Linked DNA regions of Homo sapiens: region 2 is linked to region 1. The links come from fine-mapping of genetic effects on gene expression. Tissue or cell type: whole blood. Region 1 holds a variant in brackets; the other region holds the start of a gene. All regions are shown on one strand. Distances are from middle to middle. Region 1 has its middle 180 kb from the start of LRRN1. Region 2 holds the start of LRRN1 (leucine rich repeat neuronal 1).

What was found.
Region 2: it holds the start of LRRN1, and the variant in region 1 is fine-mapped to the expression of LRRN1 in whole blood (TOPMed, PIP above 0.99).

The regions. Positions count from the first base shown.
Region 1 is chr3:3,979,770-3,988,108 of GRCh38, forward strand. It overlaps the pseudogene PNPT1P1. Among named protein-coding and RNA genes, the nearest start is that of LRRN1, 180 kb to the left of the region's middle. The variant G/A (reference allele first, on the strand shown) is at 4,326.
Region 2 is chr3:3,795,528-3,803,866 of GRCh38, forward strand. LRRN1 (leucine rich repeat neuronal 1) reads left to right here and starts at 3,904. Exons shown (of 2, transcript NM_020873.7): 1 at 3,904-4,392. LOC100130207 (a long non-coding RNA gene) reads right to left here and starts at 5,348. Exons shown (of 6, transcript NR_149025.1): 1 at 5,174-5,348. RefSeq lists silencers at 3,805-3,874, 3,885-3,974, 4,115-4,224, 6,758-7,052.

The DNA.
Region 1 (8,339 bases):
TCCTCCCTGCTTGTTCTCTATCTACTAGATGGAACTATCATCTTACCAGTGTCAGCCTTGAATTGGTATCTTTTCTTTACTCTTTCCCTACAGCCAACCATCAGTAAGACCTCCTAAGTGTATCTCGAAAACATCTATCCACTTTCTCTGACCCCACCTTAGTCCAAGCCACCAACATCTTGTTCCTGGACTGCCTCCTAACCTCTCTCTCTGTTCTGATTTTTCCACTTCCAGTTCATTTGCCACACAGTAGCCAGAGTGATCTTTTAAAGACATTCCGTTTACAATAAAATCCAAACCCCTCACCATTGCCTATAAGATCAGGCATTATTTGTCCGCTTACTTCTCTAATCTCATGGCGTGCCACCTTCTTCCTTGACCCCTCTGCTCCTGGTATACTGAACTCTCTAAATTCTCAAAACATACCACGCTTTTTCTAGTGCAGGACCTTTGTACATGCTGCTCCCACTGTCAGGAGTGCTCTTTTCATTGTGAAAGGCTGGTTCCTTTTATAATTCCGGGCTCATGTTATATGTCACTTCTAAAAAAGAGGCCTTTCCTGATCACTCATCTCAATGACATATTTTTTTTAATTTAATCTTTCAATTTCAATTAATCTTTAATATTTCAGAAAGTATATCAACATTGCCTAACATGCTGTTTTACACACAATAGATACATGATCAATGTTTGATATAAATATACATATCTTTAAAATCTTTGGTTTAACCAGCTAAACTTTTAATATTTTATGAACTAGTTAGCCCTGAGTCATAAATTTACCTACTTTTTTTTTTTTTTTTTTTGAGATAGTTTCACTCTCTTTGCCCATGCTGGAGAGCAGTGACGTGATCTCAGCTCACTGCAACCTCCAACTCCCAGGTTCAAGAGATTCTCCTGCCTCAGCCTCTCAAGTAGCTGGGATTACAGGCACCTGCCACCACACCCAGCTAATTTTTGTATTTTTAGTAGAGACAGGGTTTTGCCATGTTGGCCAGGCTGGTCTCGAACTCCTGACCTCAGGTGATCCACCCGCCTCACCCTCCCAAAGTGTTGGGATTACAGGCACAAGTCAGCATGCCCGGCCAGATTTACTTATTTTTTATGAGATTTAAAACTGTTTTTAGAGATAGAGTCCTGCTATGTTGTCCAGGCTGGAGTGAAGTAGCTATTCACAGGCATGATCATTGCACACTACAGTGTTGAACTTCTGGGTTCAAGTGATCTTCCGACCTCAGCCTCCCAAGTAGCTGGGACTACAGGCATGTGCCACTGAGTCCGGTGTATTTTTATAAGATTTTTAAAAAGATAACATATTCTAAATTATGACGTCCACATACCATTTACTTTTGTGTGGAATTATAAGGTGATATTTTAAATGATGGGAATGAACAAGTTGACATGTATATCAGTAACCTCTAAACATCTATTTCAAACATCTATTAACTGAAAGTGATGATTCCTCCAGCTCTTATACTAAGAACTTCCATACATTAGAGCAATATACATATTCAAAAAGTGACCTAGTTCAATTAGACAAGTAAATAATTTTCCTATGTTTAGGTAAATTTGAAAAATATACATAATTACTACCTCATCCTAGTTAGAATCTCATTTATATTTATTCCACTATGTTCATGATTTTGTAACCAACTTGGAAGGCATCGTATTATTAAAAGTGTATCAGATTAGCTCCCTCAACTTACTATGTCTAGTAACCATTCTGAAGAAATAGGCACTGGCTTTGAATATGGCCTGTTCCAGTTTGTGAACAGTCGTAGGCAAGTAAAGTTGTTGGGCAAAGAGGTGAGCTATAGGATGACTGAGGGTAAATTGTCACTACTGTATATAAAGAAGACAAATGAGATATAGGAAGAGATCTGTTATAATAACATATATGACATATATCTAAGTTTTTCATATATTTCAGAATTATAGAAAAAAAAGTATGTAATCTTTTCTAAGATGTATGGATGACTTACTTTTAATAATATTTCTTGATTTATAATGTAAATAAGATTAAGCGAATATGGGTTACTCTTGAATTTAAAAATTGGCACATGTAAATGAGCATTTTAATACAAATAATTAGAATATATTTATACTGTATACACAGCTACACAACGGAAGATACTACTAAAATTTTGCTCTATAGCACATTACCCTAGAAAACATAGAATTCTAGAATTCTCTTTAAAAAGATCACTGAGAATTATTAGATGATGACTGTGAAATAGGTTCTCCCAGTACAATACTACTTCTGTCATTCAAAGTTCTGACAACAGTTGTAGCTGAAGACTGAAGCACTTTATGAGAAAGCCTCATTCTTCCATCAGCTGGGTCACATCCAAAGTATTTCACCTGAATTTCTTGGCCAACTTCTAATCCTAGGGCAGTAGGATGTTTAATATTTCATTGATCAAGTTGTGTGTTATAAAGCAGTACCAAAATCATATTTGGATATAATTTTACCATTACACCAGTATCTCTGCTTTCAGTTATTGTGGCAGTACACACTGCTCCAAATTCTAATTGCTGCTCCTGATCATCCTTGCGGATTTCAGCAATGAAGTCTCTTGCCTCATGCATAGCACCGGGTGTTGGTGCAAATATAGAAAACGTTTCTTCATCCACCTGACTAATAGTTACAACTGTTTCAGCCTGAAGTTTTTTAAGTTATATCCACCTGGTCCAACAAATTTTTCTCATTTTGATAATGGAACCTGAACAGTTTCTACAACAGGTCCATTTTCTTTTCTAGATGCTTGAGGTTTTGAAATAGCTTTGTTCATGATCTGTAAAATCTCCTTTTTGCCACTGAAGCTTGTTGAATAGCCTCCATTACAATTTTCATTGTTATTCCAGGTAATTTAATATCTGCCTGTAATGCAGTTATTCCTTTATTAGTGCCAGCTATTTTGAAGTCCATGTCACCATTGTAAGCTTCAATTCCCAGAATATCTGTTAGCAAATGATAATCTTCTATTTCACCCTTCTCAAGATCGGTTTTGGTGGCCAATCCCATTGCTACACCTGTGACAGCAGATTAAATTGGAAGCCCTGAATCCATTAATGCTAAACTTCCACCACATGCAGATGCCATAGAAGATGACCCATTTGACTCTAGGACTTCAGATGTAACTCTTATGGCAAAAGGAAAATCTTTGGGAATAACAGGATACAAAGCTTTCTCAGCAAGAGCATCAGGCCCAAGTTCTCTTCTATTTATACCGGTGACTTTGACAATTTCATTAGTTGCATAAGGAGGAAACTCATAGTGCAGCATGAAATTTTTATCTTTTATCCCATTTATAGTTGTTATAACTCGATCCAACTTAATACTGGATTCTAATGAATCAAATGTAACAGCACAAAGCAGCTGTGTTTGTCCTCTTTGAAATAATTCTGATCCATGAAGGGTTTTAAACATATCTACCTCACAACTTATATTCCGAAGTAAAGTCAAATCCCGACCATCGCATCTTTTGTATTCATTCAAAATAATACTTCTAAAAACTTTCTTTGCAACAGTATTGAAGGATTCTATTATCTCATATAGATCGACCTCTGGAAATATTTCTTTTAGTTGTTCCTCTGTATCTAATCTTATTTTGTTAACAGCTTCATCTCTGGAAATTTTATCATGTTCATAATCTGTAAAAACTGCATAGAGTCTCTCCATAGTGAGTTTATGAGCATGTTTCACAATCTCTTGTGAAGGGGTAAATAACTTCTGAGGTGTCCTCTTGGTAACACCAATTTCTTTTACCAGCTGCTGGATGCCCTGAATTATTTGCTGGGTATATTTCACTCCCACTTTGATAGCGTGGCAAAAGTCCTGCTGTAAAATGTTCTCTGCAGAGGCTTCCAACATGACAGTCTGACTTTTAGGTGCTCCAGCAACCACTACATTTAAAGTACTAGAAGACATTTCTTTTCTTGTTGGGTTAACAACACATTCTCCATCAGTCATTCCTATTCATACTGTCCCAACAGGTCCATTCCAAAGAATATCTGATAATGAGAGGGCTACAGAGGTTGCCATTAATTGCTAGGACATCAAGTTCATTAATACCATCTACTGCTAACAGATTACACAGAACCTGTATATCACAGAAGTAGCCAGCTGGAAAGATAGGTCTAACTGAACAATCTACTATTCAACGTGTAAGAATTTCTTTATCAGAAGTACTAATCTCTCTTCTCAGAGGGTTTGTGGGAATTCTACCTACTGCAGCAGCCTTTTGTCCGTAGTCAACCACCAAAGGCATAAACTGGGAAGGGGAAGGTTTTGTTTTACTGACGGCTGTGGCCATTACCGCAGT[G/A]TCACCTGACTGTATTACAGCAGAGCCATTTGCAAATCTGGCCAGCTTTCCAGAGGATATTTCTAATTTCCTGTTGCCCAAGTCCATGGCCACAGCTTGAGACCCTGTGCTACTCAATAGTGCTCGCACCTGCAACTGGATGAGTGCCCGATCCCACCCTGGCAGACAGAAGGGACCATCACTCAGCGGCCGGAGCCACAGGCTCAGTGAGGTCTTAGCTTCCTCCTGTTATCCTCTGTAGCAATGCCTTAGTGTTTCCTTCACAGCACTTATTACAATTTGTAGTCATTTACTGATGTGATTATTGGTTATTATCCCTCATGAGTCTCACAGCTAAATGACAGCAGGGATCAAGTCTGTCTTCTTCCCTGTGTCACAGCTGTATCTGGCACCAAGCACATACAAGGCATTTGATAAGTATTCTTTAACATAATGAAAATGAAGTACATTTATAACACTATTCTTTCTACCCAAAGAGAACAAAAAAATTATGGACTTCCATTCTGTGTCAATATATTCAACAGGATAGAAGAAATAACACAACTGAAGGTTGCAAAATACTGAAAGTTATCAACGCTTATTCTCTAGAGATCCTTGTTAAACAATGTCCCATCCATCAAGGGTGAATTAGATTTGTCCCTGGCTTGAGGACAGAATAAGATGACTTCACCCGACTCCTTATAAACTTATAATTTTATGAAAAATCCATGAGCTCTCATCTTTCCAGCACTCTGATAACGAGGTAATTACCCTTTTAATGAAAAAGGAAGCCTTTTTATATCTATCCCCATTGAATTATGGACCTCAAAATTGAAATGAAGTCTAATAGACATCAAGCACAACTACCTGCCAGTTCCTAACAAGGATGAGGAAAAAAAAATAGTGATATCTGGGGAGCCAACGGGCAGTATGACAGGGTGTCCTTCCTGCCTTCTCTGATGACACTTTGCTATCAACACCAGTTCTTCCTTTTGTGCCTTACTCAGTTTGTAAGCCAGTCTGCAACAGTAGAAAAGTCATTAGTCACCCTTCCCTATCTGTTCCATGGGCTTTGAAATGAAGCCCTGGTTCAGGTTCCCATTTAGGTGTGACTTTCTCCATTCCTACTATGTTGACTGTAATCAAAGGGCTGGGCTCAGTCCTGACAACACGTTCAGATCCCACACTGCACTAGCCCTGCTCTAGAATCTCAATCTATTTTCCCAGTGTCCTAAGACCTGTCAAAGCCCCTGCCACCAGCCTCTTCCACTACTGACTGAGCTCTTCCATCAAACGACTGATTAATGGAACCACAACACCGACACCCCACATGAATTGCACCCGGAGCCCACAATCCATACTCCTTCCCCATGCTCCTTCAGTTTATCGATGCTGTTTAATTATCAGTAGTGGCTCGGATTAAGCCCTAAACATCTAGCTACCCTGTTCCACAGCCAAGACTGTTACTCTCACTCCTCACTCCTAGGTCTTGCCTAACTCCCCCCATTTCAGGTATTTTATAGCTGAGTCTCTACAAGTTATCACTCACAGCTAAATTCACACTTTTACTTGGTCTCTACATTTTAATCCTTGGTGATCTCTTTTTATGCAATTGCCAGTTTAGAGGCATAATCTTGTAAACCTTTACCTTCTGGACAGTAGCATCGGAAAGTTCATTACTTTCAGTTACGATACAACAGCGAGTGACAAATGCAGCTTTGGAAAGCGGAAAACTTCTTTCTCCTTGAGAGTCTCTGCACAACTTTCCACATTTGGAACCCAAGGACATTTCCTTTCTCTCTCTGCTAACATGGAGTACAGAAAGGTTACATTAGCTAATAAAAGCCCTCTGCTGACAAAAGATGCGTTTGAAAAGTCACTCGAAAAGGGAGCTCTCTCGATAGCTTTATTAAAATAAAATGCCATATCTTTGTGAAGTTAAAAGTCTCTGGATTGTGGTTAAAAGTCTGGTCTGCTCCTTATACAATGGAAAGTCTTTCAAAAGCCACGTGTTTCTTAAGCTGGCCTCACCATGCATAACAGCTAGAATATAAATCTAGACTCTCGCCGCCCATCTATCTTTTCTTTTCTGTGTCATGTAGAGGTTCCTATGTGAAGGAAAGATCTCCAGAATAAGATGAGAGATAGCTTTTATAAGAACACCAAATGATAGAAATTATGGAAATCATGATATTGAAATAATTTCTTCCAAGTTAAAACATCAGGAACATTTTTGCTTATCAGATAGGCAAGAATACTTAAATTTGAATGTTGGTCAGCATTCAACAAGAAGGCAGTGCCTAGACCCTTGGCTTATGAATTGGGGGCAATTGCAGCTTCCTTCATTCCTCTGAAGGGTTGAGAACTTATGCAAAGCCATGGGTGCAGTGCTGTCCGACGCCCTGCAGAGGTGATGCCAAGAGTAAGGCTAAATATGCCGTTTTTGAGAGGGAGCCCAGAAAGCCAGACTTCAGCAGACACCAAAGAGTCTATTGAACTACTCTGATGGGAGGATATGCAAGAGCAATGCTGAATAGTAACACCCCTGAAGAGAGACACCATGGAAAGTAGTTGTCGGACTTGTGGCTACAAACAACAAGAAAGTCCTTCGCCTGGAGCTGCCTCTGGAAAGAGCAGCTAGACTCTAGCTGGAGAGTCTGACAGAGAAACACTTCCTAGCAGAGGCTCAGCTTCTTGCCCTTCCAGAATGAGAGGCTGTGTGGTTTTGTGTTCAAGATCACGCTATGAACATGATATGAACGGTTGGTATGTCGAGACACCTTCATTGAAAAGAGAGAATAAGAAATTGCTCCCTGAAACCTAGAATAGATGGTGCCCCAGGATTGATCACAATAATCATTGGGAATATACATTGTAGAGACCTCAGATTCCTATTGCACATGTGTCCTACAAAGAAGGGTTACAGAGATTCTATCTTGAATTGTTTGTGAATTTTTCCACATGCATTACTTTTGCTGGATTATAAACTTCTACAACACAACCATATGTTTCACTTCTTATAAAATCTCTCACAGGGTCTAAGTCAAAGTCAAAGGACCGTCATTAATCAGTTGATTGGCACTAGAGTGGTTGGCCTAGCGTTGGTGGACATAGTCATTCTCAGTGTCAGAAAATCTTGCACCCTATCGGAAAAGCGTAAGAGGAAACACAAAAATTAAACAGAGGATACAGCAACATAATAGTTCTATAAAGATAGTACATACTGGGAGTCTAAAAAACATCCATATCTTTTGACATAAATCTATTGCTAGAAAATCATCCTACCAAAATATCTAAAGAGTAAAGAAACTTTATGAAGAAAGTCATTCTTTGAACAGAATATAGAAGCAGAAAAATTTTGAAACAATCTAAATATCAACAATAGAGGATATGTTATATAAACTAAGAATCTTCTTCTGTGTAAACCTGCTATTAAAAATAATGCTTAAGAAGTATTTTCAAAGGTTTAACAAGTGGTTATGACGTAATGTTCGGCAACAAACAATTGTATACAAACTAGGATCTCAATTATGTTGAAGTGTGTAGAATATTGACAGTGGGTATTTCTGAGTGGTAGGATTTGGGGTGTTTCTAATTTTCTTGTTTGAACTTTCTATTTTATACTTTTCAAGTTTCCTGCAATAGTAATGTTTTACTTTTATAATCAAAAAACTATTGAAATAATACTTTAAATTATGCATGTGAAAAGATTACCTGGTCCAGGTGGTCATTGTATCCAGCTGAAGGTGTTAAATCTAGCTAGACTCTGGCCTGGGTCTTGAGAGGTTAGTATCTATACCCCACCTTCCCTTCTAAACAGGTTAGCAAGCTGGCAAGCTGGTAAAGGAGCCTAGCCTCTTCCTCCCTACAGGACACTGCAACATCAAAACAAAGCCTCTAAATACTCCCCTAAAGACAAGGAAGACTAATATCTGTGACGTAGCTATTCTCTTCTGGGACATAGAGGAAAAAAATAGGTCTCTCTCATAACAAGACACCATTCATTTCTCAGGTTAAGCTGCCATTACCTTCGAA
Region 2 (8,339 bases), 180 kb before region 1:
GTGGGAGGGACCCAGTGGGAGGTAATTGCATCACGAGGGTGAGTTTTTCCTGTGCTGTTCTCATGATAGTGAATAAGTCTCAAGATCTGATGGTTTTCTAAGGGGCAGTTCTCCTGCACATGGTCTCTTGCCTGCTGCCATGTAAGATGTGCCTGTGTTCCTCCTTTGCCTTCTGCCATGATTGTGAGGCCTCCCTAGCCATGGGAACTATGAGTCCATTAAATCTCTTTTTCTTTATAAATTACCCAGTCTTGGGTATTTCTTCATAGCAGTATGAAAATGGACCAATACAATGACTGTCAACATCTCTGCAACAACTAAGTTCTACAAGTGGAAACAGGACCCTTTATTCAGTCAGGAATAAAACATTATTTGATATATCTGCAAAGCTGCAACTCAACTAAAATTGTAACAGCACCATAAACCTATTAATGTTAGTTCTATTTAGAACCGCCCACCATCTTGGTTTATCCAAGACTAAGGTGTGACCTGAGATGTTGAGATTTTTAGGACTAAAACCTGGAGATTCCCAGGCAAACTAAGATGGTTGGTCACTTTAGTTCTATGTCAAATTTTTAAGCTTAAATGCAAAAACTAGTTTTAATTACAGAAACGTCAATTAATCCCTTTTTTGTGTTGGGATGTTTCATATGCAGTAAACAAACAAACAAACAAACAAAACCCGAGAAGAACAGGAACTACGTATATGTAGTAAACCCACTCATTGTCAAAAATTCTTAGAGAAACAATACATTTGGTATGAAAGTTAACAATGATCACAATAGTCACAAAATTTTAAGCTACAGTCATCACCCTCTAAGAGCTTGGTGGTGGTTGTTTTAAAATCATAATTTCAGTTCAGAAATTGGAAAGAACTCTGACTACCGGTACTCTATTAATATTTCAATTAGAGAGAGACATATTTTCAACTTTGAAAAATTGCAGTTTTAAGAGGCATATGATAATTTTCTTTTCAAAATACAGATGTTCTTCTAAAGATTATTCAAATACGACTGTCTTCTGAAGTTTCATCTTTCTTTTTTTTCCTCATTTACCACATAGATCAGTACAATTAGGCTAACACCAATGATAATGTTCCTTCAAACCAAAGCTAAAGAACCTCAAGGGGCTGGTAGGGGAATCCAGAGGGGTTTGTAGTGTCTCAACACAGCCAATCGAGGGGCAAGAACTCTTTACATCAACAATAAGACCTTGCTCTCCTGGGAACTCTTGGGCTCTTGTCTCCAATTCCGTTCTCCTTCAAAAATTCCAAGGTCTTCTACCACACCTTAATAAATAACTATTAAGTGCTTTTTTACTAACTAATAAATTCAGGATCCCAGGACTGGGTGAGCTCATTAGGAGTAATTCAGATGGATTTGAGCTCTTTAAGCAAGAAGCAAGTAAGAGATTTGGTTATGCTGGTTCATTGATTCCTCTTCGTCCAATGATGCAAAAATGCGTGTTTCCTCTTCATCCATCCCAATGACAAGGAGCTTTTAAGTGTCAGTTAACAAGACAGTCCCGAAACCCCTTTGCAGAGTTAAAAAAGGGTAATTTCTAAAATTTGGACCAATTACCAATTCAGGCAATTCAGCAAATTTCTAATAATTACACCACATTTCAGACTCTTTCATAATTGTCATGCTCATTTTTCCTCTTCTGTCCACAGCAAGCCCCATCCTCTCACCCAAATTCCTTCCCCCATCCCTGACACACATTTCTTCCTAATGATAATGCTCTTCTCTCTGTCTGGAACCAAATGCATGCAGTGGTCAAGTAGAAATGGGAAAAGCTGCCTTTCTCACTCTTGCCTTGGGGAAGAGGGAAATTAGTTTAAATAAATGATATGCTAATTTGAAAAGAAATGAATCGAACAGTGGAGAGACAGAGTCCATTTCCTCCACTGGAGCAGCTAGTGCCTTTGAGATATTCTGTCACATGCGGAATCATTATCCCACCTGTCTGAATTGATGTCTTGTTTTAGTCTTCAATACCTGCCTAATAATGCCTAGAGCTTACATCTGTCGTTGAATGCTTACTATATACTAAGCACTGTCCTAAGCATTTTACATGTTTACTCCCACTTAACCATCACAATCCTTTGGGATAAGTACTGATATTAACCCTACTTTAGAGCCAAGGAAATTAAGCCTTAAAGAGATAAAGTGACTTGCCATTAGGGACACAGCTCATAAATTGCAGGGCTGGGACCTAAGCAGTGTTGGCCTGGTTTCAAAATTCACACCTTGGTCCCTGACTCACACCATTCTCATGAAGTCTCTTCCAAAACCTGGAGGCTGTTCTAGATCTGGCCTCCCAAGAGCAACTCTCACCATCATTAATTGCTCCGACTGCTCCTCCAAGACCTACCTCTGTAAAGCTCCTCCTTGAAGGGCACAACCTCATCTCTCTTCCACTCCCAGGAAGGCAGGCTGGAAACCTAATAGAGACTCCCTAAGAAACCTGCATTCTATCTTTCCCTGACCATTCAATTTCCGTACTTCCACCAGAGCCCAACTTCTATCAGACAAACTCCATGCTATCTGCATGCTAACTCCATGGATAATCTGCATGAAAAGGGGGGAAAGAGACAAAATCATGTTACAAAACTTGGGCAAGGGTCTAGACTCAACTTGCTTTGAAAGATCTTAAATCTTCCCATTCATTTGTAGACAGCAGTGGGCCTTTTTCTTCCTCTGCTCTGCACGACCTTCTAGCCCAAGTGCTAGTATCACCTTTTCCTAAAGACTTTTAAGACAAACTGTGACCATTTATGTCTACATGACACAGTTTCAGGATAACAAAGTGTGAAGACACACAAAGACGTCAAACATTTATCAGAGACCTAAGCGAAACGCCAATAAATGTTACAGGGATCAAGAATATGGTTACTGACATTGAATGTATCCTGTGGCTTTGAAGAATCCAAAGGATGATTCTCGAATAATGTATCCTTCCAAATTCTCCAGAAGTTCTAAGTTTAGACATCATAATGAAATGTCACCACGTTCCTCTGCCAGAAGTTGTTCAGTACTGAGGGGCTAATGATGCTTTCGCTTAAAGCCGATTCCCCCAATAAAGGGTGCCAAGGCTTTTCTGAAGCCCTGCTTCCGGCTGGCGACTTTGAAGCTGAGACGCAGGTTCACGCGCAGTTTCCGAAGACCTATTCCGTCCCCACCCTCCTCCCCTTCCTCGGAGACACCTCCACTTAACACTGCCTTCTCAGTCCCTCGCCGCCTGTTTAAACACAACTTCCACCCCTCACAAATCAGAAAGCTGTAATTTCAAAGTTTCAGAAACGTTTTCGGAAAGCCTCCTCCAATGGGAAGCGACTTCGCCGCTGAGTTAAGCGTCCGAATCCTCCTTCCCGCGGCAGGGACACCGGCCCGGGCCAGGTCTGCGGAGGACGCCCCCGGGCGCGCACACACAGCCCGAGGACGCGCCCTGTATTTTAAGACGCAGGGTCGGATTTCACCCCGAAACTTGGCTCCCACAGCCCCAGGCCGAACTGTGTCTGGTTCTCAGCCCCCGAGCCCGAGTTCTACGCCGCAAAGAGATGGGGCCCCATTGTGCCTAGCTGGCCTCCTAGCACGGACGTGTATTTTCTTTTGGTCTGTCTTTTGCTAAAAACCGGCAGTGCGCTTCGCCTCCCTGCCCAGCCGCAGCCTGCCGTCCCCTAGACAAAAAGCGGCGACCGCGGCCCGGCCACCCGAGCCCCGCCGCGCTGCGCCTTTGTTGGGCGGTCCACAGATGGTGCCCAGCACGGGGCCGCGCCGAGGGCGGGGGCGGGAGGCCGCGAAGAGGGTCGGGCGGGAGGGGAGGAGACGGCGGAGCAGCCAATCCGCGCGCGGCCCATCAGCTGACCGCCTTTGCTTACACCAGGTGCACGCCGGCTGCGGGGAGCACAAAGCGGGGCGCACCGCGGGCGCCGGCAACGAGCCGGTGAACGAGGCGAGGCCCGTGCGCCCGCGGCTGCAAGCGCCCGCCTGGCGGGGAGAGGGGCCGACGGCGTCAGCCCGGGCGGCGGCATCCCTAGGCGCCTGGGGCGCCTTCCTCCGGACCTGGCCGCTCGCTGCCCCGCCCTCTGCACCCCACTTCTCCGACCCTCCTTCCCAGTCCTGCCTCCCCCTGCCCTGGCCTCTGAGAGCCGACTGAGCCCAGCCCCGTGCAGCAGCGGTTGCCTGTGTCGCCGCCTAGTCTCCGGTCTTGGTGCTCTCCCGGGGGTGCCCCAAGGAGCCAGTGCGCGCTGCGGGCTGGGAAGGAGGCGCCGCTCAGCTAGTCCTCCTCCTCCTCCTCGTCTTTCTCCTCCTCCTGCTGCTGCTGCCGCCGCCGCCGCCGTGGGTGCCGGGTCCGCGCGCACCCCAACACCCCCACCAGCTGGGCCTCGGGGTAAGTCCCTGGCCGGCCGCGCCGCGGCAGGAGGTGTGGGAGGCAGCGAGGGGAAGTCGAGGCAAACTTGGTGGCGTGGGAGACCCTACGGGGTCTGGGGAACCTCAGGGTAAGATCGCGGGCCTGAGGGGGACGAGGGGGCGCGGCTCACGGAGCTGGGGAAAATGACGAAGTCGGGAAACGAGAATATAGTGCCCCGTTTCCCCCCGTCCCCCTTGCCAAAAAAAAAAAAAAAAAGGTGTGGGAGAGCGATAGTTGGGAAGGCAGGCCAGATAGAAACAGGCAAAAAAAGGCAGTGACCGGAGCCGAGCCTGCTGGATTTCAGGGGCCGACCAGGGGAGGGAGGTGCCCGGGGACGGGGAGGGAGGAGGGCTGCCGGGATGTGAACCGGGGAAGGCAGCTGGGGCTGGAGAGCAGCGCGGAAAGGGGGCCCAGGGAGCTGGAAAGAGGGCCAAGAGGAGGGCAAGGAAGGTGGCGGGCGACGGGGAGAGGAAAGAAAAAGGGTGTCTTGGCGGTGGCCTTGGTAAGAGAAAGGGGCAAGGGGTATAATTGACAAGGCACTGAAAGTATTGAAGTCAGAGCCTTGGGAAGGATCTACCGAACTCTCGGCGGTCCACGCGGGGACAGACCTCAGCCCGTGAGCCTTGAGCTCCACGCGGGGACAGACCTCAGCCCGTGAGCCTTGAGCTCCACGCGGGGACAGACCTCAGCCCGTGAGCCTTGAGCTCCACGCGGGGACAGACCTCAGCCCGTGAGCCTTGAGCTCCACGCGGGGACAGACCTCAGCCCGTGAGCCTTGAGCTCCACGCGGGGACAGACCTCAGCCCGTGAGCCTTGAGCCCAGAAGGAGTGGCAGCCTCAGGACGTTTGCCAGGTGGCCTGGAATGTGAGGGAAGCCTCAGCCCCGCCAGGAACAGAGCTGGCGCTGAGTTCCCGGCTCGGCCCGGGTCAGAAGCGAGGAAAGTTTGCCGGCGAGTGTCCTTTGTGCTGCGTGGAGAGGGGTGTGGGCGGCCGCCGACTCGGCGCTTCCCCGCCGCCCGCCCAGGGAGTCCCTGCCTGGCAAGCTGGGGCTCGGGGAAAAGTCCAGCAGCGAGAGGGCCGCGTGTCCCGGGACGGTTCCAGGGGAGCCCGCGCGGAAACGCGGACCAGGCGCTTCGGCCCGGATGCCGGATCCAGGAGAAGGGGACCTCGCTTGCCGTGTCCACCGCCGCGGCCCCAGCGCCAAGAACAGAGCCTGGCCGTGAGTGAACGACTGGCCGGGGTACAAATGGTTCTGAAGCACTTGAAGCTCACAGGCAAAGGCTAAGAGTCTAAATCCCATCCCGCCGTAAGTATTTTCATTCCCAAACCTAAATCGTAAAGGAAAAGTGGAATTCTAATTGGGTGAGGGAACAGGTGCTGCCGACTCTGGCTTTTGCGTGGAGGATTTTCTAAAAGACAACATGTTTTGTTTTGTCTTGCCATGACAATCTAAATCATGTTAGTGGAATAGGCTCATTATTTCATTTTTAAAAGCTAGGGCTGGAGGAGTGGAAAGTTCAGGAAGGCACTTTGATCAGTATAAATCTAGAGTAAAAGTGTTATTGGCTCCAGGGCCATATGTGTCCCGAAGTCTCTGATTTGCATGCAAATGTGAGCGGATCCTGGCAGATGTCTGGCCTCATCCATTCACATGAAGGAATTTGAAAAGACAAGGAGTCTTCAGTTAACAATAGACCTTAAGAAAAGAGAATAAAGACGCAGTGTGAGTTTTTCTGTTTGGGAATTCCATGGTTTGCTGACACCTTTATTCAGGAGCCAAATTCTTTAAGTGCTATTGTATTGAAAGCTCAAAGTGCTGCTTGCTCTTTACCTGGCTGTATATATTCGTGCAATATTCAAGCTGGATATTCTAAGCTAGTTAGGAAAAGGTTTGTGTGAAGCAGACAGTAACTTTAACCCACTTCTGGCGGCTTGAAGTGATTTCTGAATTGACCCCTCAACTTTTCGAGTTTTCTTTTAATAATTTGACTCTTGCTCAAATTTGGTCCTCATCTTCAGAGCTATTCATTATAGTAGAAGATCGTTGTCGTTGACCGACATGAAGATTTCCTGAGAATGTCCACTGTCTAGCTGAGAATGTCCACTGTCTAGCCAAAGTCATTTCGGTTCTTAAGGCACCAAACTGTAGAACTGCAGGTGATGCAACTGTCCCAACCCTAGTTACCCGAGTGGTTTTCAGGTCACATAACAGTGAACGGGGAGGTAGTCGTGCAGTAGACTCTGGAGCAAGGGCCTTTCTGCCGTGTCTAACATTAGCTGCGTGACCACACTGCACTGTTCACCTCTTGGCGTTGTGCGACAGCTGAACAAAAGGCAGGCAGTGTGGGCCGCACGTGAGGCAGGCGATTATATTAATACCTACGACTAACCAGCCCCAGTGGCCTCTTCTTTTGTCAACCTCAAACACTGTTGAAGGGAAAAAGAACCTATTCACGGAACAGCATTTGCCCCAGTATTCTATATATTCACTGAAAGGGACATTAAAATACAACACCCCCCCAACCCCCGCCAGAAAAAAAAGACAACATTGTTTTGGAGGGCTCAGTGTTTCGGGGGAGGGGTGGACAACAGATGTTAGTCTGCTATTTTACATGTTCCTTTAAGTTATTTTTGCAGGTTCAGTGCCTTTTATACATAAGGCAATATTTTCACAGGATGGGGAAAAATGAATTGAATCAAATTTAAGTAAGAAAATGTTATAGCCAAGTTTGCATTTTGTGTCTTAGAGCTATATAGAAGTCAGAAAGTAACAAATCATTCTAATAAACTCTTAATTTGACTCTACACGCCTGATGTCTTCCTGATAGAGTTGAAGGGTAACTTAAAATAAACTTGACATTTCTAGACTATAAACCATTTTGTTGTAAAGTTATCTAGATATTTTTGAAACCTGGTAAGTTAAAAATGACCCTCACATTTGTGAAACCTTATCTTTGGCAATTAACCTGCCTGTGTAATCGTTATTCTGCAAGTCTAATGAAAGGACAGATTAGAACTCATTCCTTGGTAAATAAAACTGATAAAGTGTTTAATTATTAGAAAAGGATCATTCTGCTAAATAAAAGATCTCAAGACCAGATCCAACTGCAGACTGTGTTTCTAAAACATAACCTCAGCTAGCTCTGGTTAATGTCTGAAATTCTGGGAAAGCAAGGAAAAACTCAACCATTGATCTCTCTCTGGTTAGTCTGTGCTAAGGCCACCTTCTTGATCTAAACTGCTAGAGCCATTACCACATATTCTAAAGCAGTGACACTCATGGGAATATACTAGGTACTAAAGAAAATCGGTCTCTACGGAGTTATATTGCTACTTCCCAAGCCAGTGGAATATAAATAATAATGATAAATAATCAGAATGGTGGGCTTTTTATACCACCATAAGTAGGCCATAAGTCATAAATAAAATATGGTAAATTATAGGATGCAGATGCCAGTTTTACGAGACTTGCACAATGCTTACTTAAAATTTATTTTTAAGTTACAAAATAATAGTTCCCCGAATGATTCATTTCAGCACTAATGTCAGGTTATTCAAATATTGTATTTAATTTTAAAAAATTATGCTGAACATCTGTTTTGGGTTAAGCCAATCTGGAGATAAAGCAAATTCCATTGTAGAATCATATGATCATTTAGAATCATATGTTTCTGGGAACAATGAAAGTATCTTTAACTCATGAATAGAGCTCTGATTAATATTTAATTCAGGATGAAATTATATGGATGAAGTCAGAAAAACATTTATTCTCTCTTGTTTTGGCTCAAAGTACAGAATAGAGATAAAAGTTAAACCCTATCTGTAAAATTCAATACTTTAGTGACCAAGGGATCCATTTGTTCTAAAGGTCTTTTTAGGTGAAGTTTGCTTTTTAATTTCTTGTTTTAGCATATATTAGCATTCAC